Regions from separate parts of the Homo sapiens genome. Here region 1 is linked to region 2. Evidence: fine-mapped expression QTL. A gene starts in region 2. The other region holds a variant in brackets. All regions are shown on one strand. Distances are from middle to middle. Region 1 has its middle 24 kb from the start of LINC01565. Region 2 holds the start of GATA2 (GATA binding protein 2).

Region 1 (5,368 bases), 110 kb before region 2:
CCATTTTGCAAGCTTTCCTGGGGTCCTGCGCACCTGTGGGCTGAGATCCAAGGCTGTGTGAATTCTTCCATAGACAGGACCAGAGTGCACAGCCATTCAGCCTGTGGTACCTGGGCTTCACCTGTTATTTTGGAGATTGCGTATATTGGTTATGTTTTTCTGCCTCATTCTTTTCTTTATTTTTAAACTTTTGGCCGGGCAGGGGAGCTCACATCCACAGTCCCAGCACTTTGGGAGGCCGAGGTGTGGGCAGATTGCTTGAGCTCAGGAGTTTGAGACTGGCCTGGGCAGCATGGCGAAACCCCGTCTATACAAAAATCAACCAGGCATGATGGCTTGTGCCTGTAATCCCAGCTACTTGGGAGGCTGAGGCAGGAGAATCGCTTGAACCTGGGAGGCAGAGGTTGCGGTGAGTTGAGATCGCGCCATTGCATTCCAGCCTGGGTGACAAGAGTGAAACTCCGTCTCAAAAAAAAAAAAAAAATTTAGCTGGGCGTGGTGGCAGGTGCCTGTAGTTCCAGCTACTCAGGAGGCTGAGGCAGGAGAATCGCTTGAACCTGGGAGTTGGAAGTTGTAGTGAGCCGAGATCGCACCATTGCACTACAGCCTGGGTGACAAGAGTGAAACTTCGTCTCAAAAAAAAAAAAAAAAAAAGCACTTTGGGAGGCCGAGGTGGGCAGATCACGAGGTCAGGAGATTGAGACCATCTGGCTAACATGGTGAAACCCTGTCTCTACTAAAAATACAAAAAATTAGCTGGGCGTGGTGGTAGGCACCTGTAGTCCCAGCTACTTGGGAGGCTGAGGCAGGAGAATGGCATGAACCTAGGAGGCGGAGCTTGCAGTGAGCCGAGATCGCGCCACTGCACTCCAGCCTGGGCGACAGAGCGAGACTCAGTCTCAAAAAAACCAAAAAAACAAAAAAACAAAAAACGGGCTGGGTGCGGTGGCTCACGCCTGTAATCTCAGCACTTTGGGAGGCTGAGGTGGGTGGATCATCTGAGGTCAGAAGTTCGAGACCAGCCTGGCCAACATGGTGAAACCCCATCTCTACTAAAAATACAAAAATTAGCCGGGTGGCAGTGGTGCGCGTCTGTAATCCCAGCTACTGAGGAGGCTGAGGCGGGAGAATTGCTTGAGCCTGGGAGGCAGAGGTTGTGGTGAGCTGAGATCATGCCACTGGGCTCACTCCAGTCGGGGTGACAGAATGAGACCCTGTCTCAAAAAAAAAAAAAAGAAGGACATTACAGTTTTTAAATGTTGCCTCTAAATTTGCCTGTGAACCAACTATTGGACAGAATTGATGAATTATTTTGTCAGCGATGATAATGTGTTTTGACTATACAGAAAAACTTTATTTTTTCACTTGTGCCCTGGAGTATATAAAGGTGTATGAAGACATGATGGCTGTGTTCTACTGAGAAATATGTCAGCATAAAACATAAAATGAATTAAGGTTTTCTTCTGCATAAAATGAATTAAGTTTAACCTCAAATCGGAGCTTCACATCAGCGTTCCAGAGATAAAGGTCATAAAGTTGAGGACTGGCTGAGAAAGAGGGTGGCTCTAGGGCAGGCCTGGGGAAGCCGAGGAGGTAAGGGACTCAGGGAGGGAGGGGCCCAGGCCCTGGCAGGGGGCAGCAGGTAGAGGAGGGTGGCTGGGGCTTCAGAAGGACTTGTGAGCTGGGTGCTGTTCTAAGCACTTCTGCACAAACTAACTCATTTCATCCAAGCAATGGCCCGAAGCGGTGGGAACTGTTATTGTGCCCATTTCAAAAATAAGGAAACTGGCCTGGCATGGTGGCTCACACCTGTGATCCCAGCACTTTAGGAGGCTGAGGTGGTCAGATCATCTGAGGTCAGGAGTTCAAGACCAACCTGGCCAACATGGTGAAACCCCATCTCTACTAAGAATACAAAAAAAATTAGCTGAATGTGGTGGTGGGCACCTGTAATCCCAGCTATTTGGGAGGCTAAGGCAGGAGGATCGCTTGAACCCTGGAAGCAGAGGTTGCAGTGAGCTGAGATTGCACCACTGCACTCCAGCCTGGGTGATAGAGTGAGACTCTGTCTCAAAAAAAAAAAAAAAGGAAACTGAGCCAAAAAGAGGTTAGGACCTTGCCACAGACACTGGCAGGGGACTGCAGGAGTGGGGACAGGAGCCCAGGAAGCCTGTCTTTGCTGTTAACCACCAGCTTCACCTGGCGGGACCACAGGTGGCCTGGAAGTTTTAAAGTTGCATTTATTTATTTATTTATTTATTTAGATGGAGTTTTGCTCTCGTTGCCCAGACTGGAGTGCAGTGGCGCGATCTCGGCTCACTGCAACCTCTGCCTCAAAATGATTCTCCTGCCTCAGCCTCCCTAGTAGCTGGGATTACAGGCGCCCACTACCGTGCCCACCTAATTTTTTTTTTTTTTTTTGTATTTTTAGTAGAGATGCGGTTTCACTATGTTGGCCAGGCTGGTCTCCAACTCCTGACCTCAGGTGATCCACCCACCTTGGCCTCCCAAAGTGCTGGGATTACAGGCGTGAACCATCACACCTGGCTTGCATTTATTTATTATTTTATTTTCTGAGTTAGAATCTCGCTCTGTTGCCCAAGCTGGAGTGCAGTGGCATGATAACAGCTCACTGCAGCCTCAACCTCCTGGGCTCAAGTAATCCTCCCATCTCAGCCCCCACCTCTCTGCTCCAGTAGCTGGGACTACAGGTGTGTGCCACCACACCCAGCTAAGTTTTTTTTAGAGATGGGGGTCTCACTATGTTGCCCAGGCTGGTCTTGAACTCCTGGACTCAAGTGATCCTCCTGCCTTGACTTCCCAAAATGTTGGGATTACAGGCGTGAGTCACTGCTCCCGGCCTGTATCTATTTATTCTGAGAAGTGATATAACATTGCAGAAAGTTTTAAAAATAACAAAACCAAAATGAACAAACAAAACATTTCCCCACAAAACCGCATTCCCACCATGATCATTTGGGTGTGTCCTTGCCCAGTGGACATTTTCATGAACATAACTTTTTCTTTTTTCTTCCCCTCCCTTTATCTGTTTTTTTTTTTTAATGACTTTCTAAGACTAGATTTCCAGAAATAAATGAACAGGGCAAGGGGGATAGTTTATAAAATATATTTTTAATAGTTTCTGGCAGCGATTATGTGAGGCCCAAACTGAAAGTAGGGGACTCTCATTTGTGGAGGTTCACAGATCAGAAGATGCATCTCAGATCACTTTCGGGAAGCTTC[C/T]GGGCAGTGCCGTTTGTCGGTGTCATCATCGTCCTTATCGCTGACAGCCATCTTCGCTGCATTATCTGCAGCCCTTTCGGGAAGTGCCAGGGGCTTGGTAGAGAGGACCCAGCCCCAGGCTCGGCCTGCCTTGGGGCAGATGCACGCCACAAGCATGGAGCCCACGGAAGAGCACCCTCAAACCCAGGCAGCCCTGTGTGCACGGCCTGGGGAGCAGGGCTGAGGGCCCTGAGACCTGAGATCGCAGACGCCAAGCCTCCTGGGGCCCCTGCTGTGTTGGGGGGGTGGACTGCGGAGGTGCCATTCTTAAATACCTGGCTGAACATTACCCCCCTGGGGAGGAGCAGTGCGCAGCCGTTACCACATTGAGAGGGAGCTTTGGCCCAGCGGTGCTGCACATAGTGAACAGGACAGGCGTCTGCAGATGGACTGCACGTGAACATTCTGCATGTCCACAGAATAAGACTTGAGGCCCTTCAATTTATTTTCTATTTTCCAATTTTTGATGGAGACATGGGTACCAAGGACTATGCCTCCACCACAAGCAGACCAACAGCATAAGGGCCCTTAAAAATGAAAACAGTAGGGTTGGGTGTGGTGGCTCACACCTGTAATCCTAGTACTTTGGGAGGCCTGAGATCAGAAGTTCGAGGCCAGCCTGGGCAACATGGTGAAACTCCATCTCTTCTAAAGTACAAAAAATTAGCTGGGCGTGGTGGCACGTGCCTGTGATCCCAGCTACTTGGGAGGCTGAGGCAGAAGAATCGCTTGAACCCGGGAGGCGGAGGTTAAAGTGAGCTGAGATCGCACCGCTGCATTCCAGCCTGGGTGAAAGAGCAAGACTCTGCCTCCAGAAAAGAAAGAAAACAGTAGTTCGGCTGCAGGTGGCGGGGACTGGGGCAAACTGATGCTCACATGTTTCACGCAAAGAGGTAGCTGCTGCTCAGCACTAGCTGACTGGGGATCTGTGAGAGTATGGGCCTAGGGCTGGCAGATCTACTTTTTTCCTAGAGAAATGTGAAATTTGGATTTTAAAAAGTGCAATCCTTTGATATTTATATGTTGACTCAGATGTGTTTGAATCACCATGTAGGCCTGACAAAGCTCGCTGGAGGGCTGCACCAGGCGTGGAGAAGCAGCTGGGACAGCAACATCTGTCACCGGTTGGTATGGCAAGGGCTGGGCACTCACAGGAGCCTGAGAAACACCAGTGTCCACCCTGCCCATCTTGGTTGTGGGGGTTGGAAGAAGCAGCAGACCCCTGCCCTCACCCATGAGTCTCAAGCATGGCCCTTGTGTTTTGGAGCAGGGGACCTAATGAACTGCTGGCTTTCTAGAATGTCTGCCCAGGGCCAAGGCCACCACCCCCTGCTGGGCATCCGGCCCCAGTGCCCAGGGCATGGAGGGGGCTGAGAGGACAGCACCAGCAGGGTGATGTTGTCTTCTCTCTCCAGGGGTTAGGCCCTGCAGCCAGGCAGACAGGCTCTAGCCTTAGCTCTGCACTCAATCCTGTGTGAGCTGAGGCTTCTGGTCCCGGAGGCCCTGCTTCTTCATCTCTAAAATTGGGTGCACGATGCCAGCCTCTTAATATTGCTCGAGGATGAGAGTAGCTTAGTGCAGAGGGCACTTAGCCTGGTGGCAGGCACGCAGTGGGTCTCCCTAAACACTACTCTCCCCCTTGCCACTCCTCAGTCCCAACTCGGTGAGCAGAGATCTCCCTGGCCAACCTCCTGGCTCAATGACCTTTGGCAGATGACTTACCCTCTGTGTGCCTCAGCTTTTCCATCTTTGGAGTGGGGGGACTCATAGCAACTACCTTGTCAGGAGTAATGGGACAATAGACCTAAGACCCTGCAAGCAGGACCGCTGCCTCTGCTCCTCAGTGCTTCCTCTGATTTCTGGTCTCAGTGAAGCCATTTGTATGTAGGGATTAGGTGTTAGACTTCAGCTTTCCTTTTCCTTCCTTCCTTCCTTCCTTCCTTCCTTCCTTCCTTCCTTCCTTCTTTCCTTCCTTCCTTCCTTCTCTCCTTCCTTCCTTCCTTCTCTCCTTCCTTCCTTCCTTCCTTCCTTCCTTCCTTCCTTCCTTCCTTCCTTCCTTCCTTCCTTCCTTCCTTTCTTTCTTTCT
Region 2 (5,368 bases):
AAAGATACAATGATATACACTGATACCTATGCTGTTAAAGACAGATGGACATGCACATAGCCAAATGCATGTTCAAATACACAAACACAAACACACGCCCCAACAGCCATCAATTAATAAAGAGAATTATACATGGATATCCAGACACATGCAACACACCACACACACACACCTACACATACACCAGTTCAAGGACACATGCAGATACCCAGGTACAAACTATTAAAGACACACACAGGCTAGGCGCAGTAGCTCACGCCTATAATCCCAGGACTTTGGGAGGCCGAGGTGGGAGGATTGCTTTAGTCCAGGAGTTTGGGACCAGTCTGGGCAACATAGTGAGACTGTGTTTCCACAAAAATAAAAATAAAAATAATTAGCCAGGCACGGTGGCACATGCCTGTGGTCCCAGATACTCAGGAGGCTGAGGTGGGAGGATGGCTTGAGTCTGGGAGGTTGAGGCTGCAGTAAGCGCTGATTGAACCGCTGCACTTCAGTCTGGGTAACAGATCAAGACCCTGTCTCAAGAAACAAAACAAAACAAAACAACAACAACAACAAAAATACACACAGTAACACATGCCTAGATACATGCACATACACACGCAAACACACACTCCAAAACACACCCATTCATAGACATGCCACACACTGCTACAGACACATGGGCAAACACCTGGAAATCCCCACCCCTCATTACATGAGTCTCTGACATGATGACCCCACAGACACAGAGCCAAAGGGACGCACAACCATTTCCACAGACACACTCTCTTGTGCCAAATTCCAGGGTCATGAAATAGCCACACTGTGACCTACTGCCCAATACACAAACTCTCAGGAACCCACAAGAAGAAATGAACATACTCATACACCCAGTTTTGCAGACACTCCTGTGTGCTCCTAAGTGCACACAGACACACCTGGGCACACAGGACATAGACTCTGAGCCACATGCATAGAACACACACACAATGCAATAGTCACCACCAGATTTGGAGAAAGACCTATGGACAGCAGGGGTCACAAAGACCAGGGGACAGAAACACTCCTCTGGGGCACACCTGGGCACGGGAGCACAGATTTCCCAGTCCTTCCAAGCCCAAGCACTTTCCCTCTGGGCTCAAGGTCCCCAGGCCACTTTCACTCTCCCTGATCTGCTGGAATGGGAATCAGGGGTGGGGGTGGGGGGACGCTGACTGGTTGAATCCCTTAGTAAGAACTTTGGCAGCACAAGGACTGGACTGTCTTTGCCCACAAACCCAGGGGCCTTCTGGGGATGAGGACTCCCACACTCACTTTCTCCCCCCCTCCTGACTCCCACTTCTGTGAACAAGCCCTCTGCACACTTCCTTGCTTCCCCCATTGTGAGAGTCTGCCCCAAGGAGATGGGCCAGGGGGACACCAGACAGTGGACTTCTAAAGTGCTCAGGGGGTCCCCCAGCGTTAGGAACTGGAGGGGGGGTGGGACAGGGAGAGGGGCTGCGCCTGCACTTAGCTAAACAAGCCTGGCAGTGAGGGCGTCCTGAGTGTGAGCCCGAGTGCCGAGTTGCATCTGATTGTATGGCCATGTGTGTCGGTGTGACCCAGGCCGTCTGTCTGAGGATGTCCTCGCGGCCACAGCTGTGTGCACATGTGCAGGGATGTGTGCGTGTCCGTGTGAGCACTCCTGGAAGTGGGTTGAAGACAGAGGAGCGGGCGTCTGTGTACCATTATCAGTGAGTGCGTGTGCTCACAGCTCCTGAGGGTCCCCGGGGAGAGTCTCAGTAAAGACGTGTCCCAAGCTTTCTGAGCAAGCATCCCTGAGGTCAGGGGCGCGCGTGTGCGCTCCGGAGAGGGTGGGAGCGGCCTGGAGTGTGGATGCACAGGGTGTGCGCGCCCTGAGTGCCTAGCGGCCCTTGGCCGGCCAGGCGGCTGGACCTGGTAGGCCGGGTGCAGAGCCCCGGGTACCCTCCTGCCCCCTGCGGCGCTCCCGCCCCCGTCGCCACCCCCTGCCCCCCCGCAAAGTGATGTCGAAATAAAAAGCCGCGTTGCGGCCGGTGGGGGAGAGAGAGGCAGCGTGAGCGCCAGGAAGGTAGCGAGGCCAGCGTCGCCCCGGGACTCGCTGCTCAAGTCTGTCTATTGCCTGCCGCCACATCCATCCTAGCAGGGCCCCGTCGCCCACCAGGCGGACAAAAGCGGTCCGCTGAACACCATGCGGCCGCTCGGCGTGCCGCCCAGGCTCTGCTGGTGAGCGCCGCCACCCCGCGCCCAGGTCCCGCGAGCCCGCCTGCCGCGCACCTCGCCCTGCTCCCAGCTCTACTCCAGGCCCCGTCCGCCCGGGGGCGCCGCCCACCGCGCCTCGCTCGGTGAGTTTCTTCCACTTCCACCTTCCCTGGGCCCGGCCCTTCCCGCCCCCGGCCCGGCCCGCCTGGCACCCGAATCGCTTGGTCCGTTTGCCCTGTGGCCCCTACCTTTGGGGCTCGCCTTGGCCCTGCCAGAGACCGGAAACCCTGGTTATAGGGACTTTAACCAGAGGGAGTATTTGGTTACCTGGGCACAGCAGGCCCGCCTCGGGCCTCTTGTCTTCCCATTTCTCGGAGCCACAGGCCACGAGACCCTGGCATTCCCAGAGCCTCGCAAAGCACCCCCGCCTCCCGGCCCCCGAACTGGGGCCTTTGTCTCGGCCGCCCCCAATCCCCAGGCCACCGCGGCGGATGCGTCCGAGCCGGGCCGCCGAGCGGCGGCTGCACCTGCCGGCTGGTCCCGTGCGCCGGCTTTTCGCGGCTTAACCCAGCTCGCTCCTGCTTGCGCCCCCGCGCGCTGCGCCCCGCAGCCCTTTATCCTGTGTGACTGGGGTGCGTGTGGGGGAGAGCGCCGGGTCTGGAAGTCTCCCCCCGCCCCAAGCCGGAGTCGGAATCCGTTTAGTGGGATTTCAATAAGAATGGGGCCGCCGCGGGCTTGAAGATCTGCCGCCGGTAGGCGTAGACGGCGTTCTGGATCTGTCTGAAAACGGGGCATTTAAAATTATTCTGTGGCGGCCAGGCTTGAACTCCGCGTTGCTCCAACCACGAGGGGAAAGGCCCCGCGTTCAGGGACCCCGTGTGTGGCGAACGCTCCTTTACCGGAAAACAAGGAAGGAAATTCGTTGTTTTGGAAAAAGCCTCCTCTCCCGAGGTCGGGAACATCTGGTGGTGAGCTCCAGGTCTACGCAGGCACCCCGTGCTAGGATTCGTTTATGAGCAGGCAGGATTCGAGAACCAGGTAGGGCCCGTGCGGCAGCCGAGGCGTCTGGGGAGCGTTTCCCAGCCGGGCTGACAAATTGCAGACAAATTGTGCCTAACGAAACGGATTTACCAGTTGTCAGGCCGCCGGCCCCGGCCGCTCCAAATAAACCGTGGCTGTTCGTGGAGGAGGGAGAAGCACGGCCCGATTGTCTCCGGGTCTCAGCAGGGTTCCGCGGGGAGCCTGCCAGGCTTGAAGGTAGGGGTCAGAAGCGATATAGAATCTCGGAGGCGCCTGGGTCCAGGGTGCCGAGACACCTAGGACGTGGGGGCCACAGACTCTACGATTCCCAAAGACACAGAACAGTAATGAGGTGGGAGAGCCTGCACTGATGCCGAGGGAGGGAGCCTTCTGCTTTAAGGGGCTGGAATTGAACCTCAAGGAGCAGGAGGGGCCGTTATAGCAGTAGTCCCCCCCTTGGGAACCCCCCCGGAGGGATGGCTGCTGGCCTGAGATCTAATGCCCCGGCTTTAAGGGAACTTCTGAACCCATCTGCTAAGGCACCCCACTTCCTCCCCGTACCCCTCAAGGTTTATTGCCAGTGTGGGGCTGGGAGGCCGCTGGGTTGCGAATTAAATTTCTCTATGGAAGGTAGTCCCTTAGCAAATGGGTTTCCTTGACACCCCACCCCCAGCCCCACACCGCGGGCCAATTAGCTGCCCATAAGGAAAAGGCGAGAAGAATTAGGTTACAAAGGGAGGGCAAACTTATGGTCCCAAAGGGGCCGCCTCGGATGAGCTAACTTTAAACAAAGGGCTCAGAGGGGGGGGGGGGCTGGACGGCCGGGGAGACCTGGGCATCTCTGTGTCCCCACCTGGCACCCGCGGCTTAGTAGAGGCCTGAGAAGCACTCTAGAACCGGGCACCAGATCTGCTACCTCCCCAGCTCCCAGGCAGAAGCACCCAGGTCAAATGGTGGCGATCGCCGCTGTGAGTTCTCGGGCCAAAAGGGTCCTTCGAAAATTCTGCTTCCTGGCTGACCTTCTCCAGTCCTCAGAGAAATCTTGTTCCCAAGTAAGGAAAGTGACAGCTTCTTAATGTGATCAAAGGCAGCGCCAGCATTTCCAACTATACTCCCGAACGAACAAAGTACTGAAAAAGGGAACGCGTCCCTCTAAAGGTGTTTTGGGGACCCCAAAGTTCCAGCCCATAAATTGGAGTAAATCTGCTCTCACCAGGCCTGGAACAGCGCCTCAAGACCCCAGCAGATTCTGGGGGCTGCGTTGACCCTCCCCGGGAGTTTGTTTGGGGCCCAAGGTGGGAGGACCATGTCTTCGGCCTAATGGGGAGGGGCCCGGTTGGTGTCCCTCGGTCTGCCTGGCACACACAGACATTGTCGAGCGCGGGTCCCTCTTTATTGGCCAGCTGGGCGCCCTGCTACTTGGCGTCGCATTTCTCTCTCCCAGGCGGGTTCGTTTCCGCCAGAGAATGCAGCAGTCCCGCATCCTACGCAGGACCTGCAACCGAGGTGGAGGCTTCGGTCAAGCCGGCTCCTGCCTGCGTTGTCGAGGAAGGCAACCCCAAGGCCTGAAAGGACCTGGCAGAACTCCTGTTTCCTTTTTTTCCTCTACACCGGATTGCGGGCAAGGAGGCTGGTTCGGGTCTCCCGAGGCCCCTGCTCAAGCACTCCTTAACCGTCCTGCTAAGCCCCTCTGTGCGGCGATTTTCTGAGCTGCCGAGCGGGGTAATTAAATCCCCTCCCTCGCTCCGCTCTGCGTCAGGCAGGCGGCAGCACAGGGCTGACGTTTGGGCAGGGGACTCAGCCAGGCTGGCCACCTCCACTACCGCAGTGGCCGGGACCCTGCCGCGGAGGGGTTAGACGCCGAGCTCGCTGCGCTGAAACTGGGAATACACACGGAACGGGGAGGGGGAGGGTAATTTTTACCGCGCCGGTGGGAGAAAAAGGCGAATTACCTGCTTTCCCGAGGGACGCGCGTAGCCACTTCCCTGAGAGCCGCGGCACCGATCGCGGCCGGGCGGGAAGCTTCCGCTCGGTCCTGGCGTTCACAGCCCAGCGGCCAGCTGCTGGTCTGCCTCCCGCGCTGGGTCCCAGGGTTCGCGCTCGAGCGGGGCAGCTTTGCCGGACACGGGGGATTATCCCTGGG

The links. PIP is the estimated chance that this variant, and not a neighbour inherited with it, causes the effect. A credible set is the group of variants that fine-mapping cannot tell apart.
Region 1: its variant is the best candidate, but not a certain one, in a credible set for the expression of GATA2 in whole blood (INTERVAL, PIP 0.52).

Annotation. Positions count from the first base shown.
Region 1 is chr3:128,597,030-128,602,397 of GRCh38, reverse strand. No RefSeq gene overlaps it. Among named protein-coding and RNA genes, the nearest start is that of LINC01565, 24 kb to the right of the region's middle. The variant C/T (reference allele first, on the strand shown) is at 3,244.
Region 2 is chr3:128,489,879-128,495,246 of GRCh38, reverse strand. GATA2 (GATA binding protein 2) reads left to right here and starts at 2,046. Exons shown (of 6, transcript NM_032638.5): 1 at 2,046-2,348. GATA2-AS1 (GATA2 antisense RNA 1) reads right to left here. Exons shown (of 3, transcript NR_125398.1): 2 at 5,178-5,368. RefSeq lists a silencer at 2,247-2,336 and enhancers at 4,108-4,917, 4,918-5,368.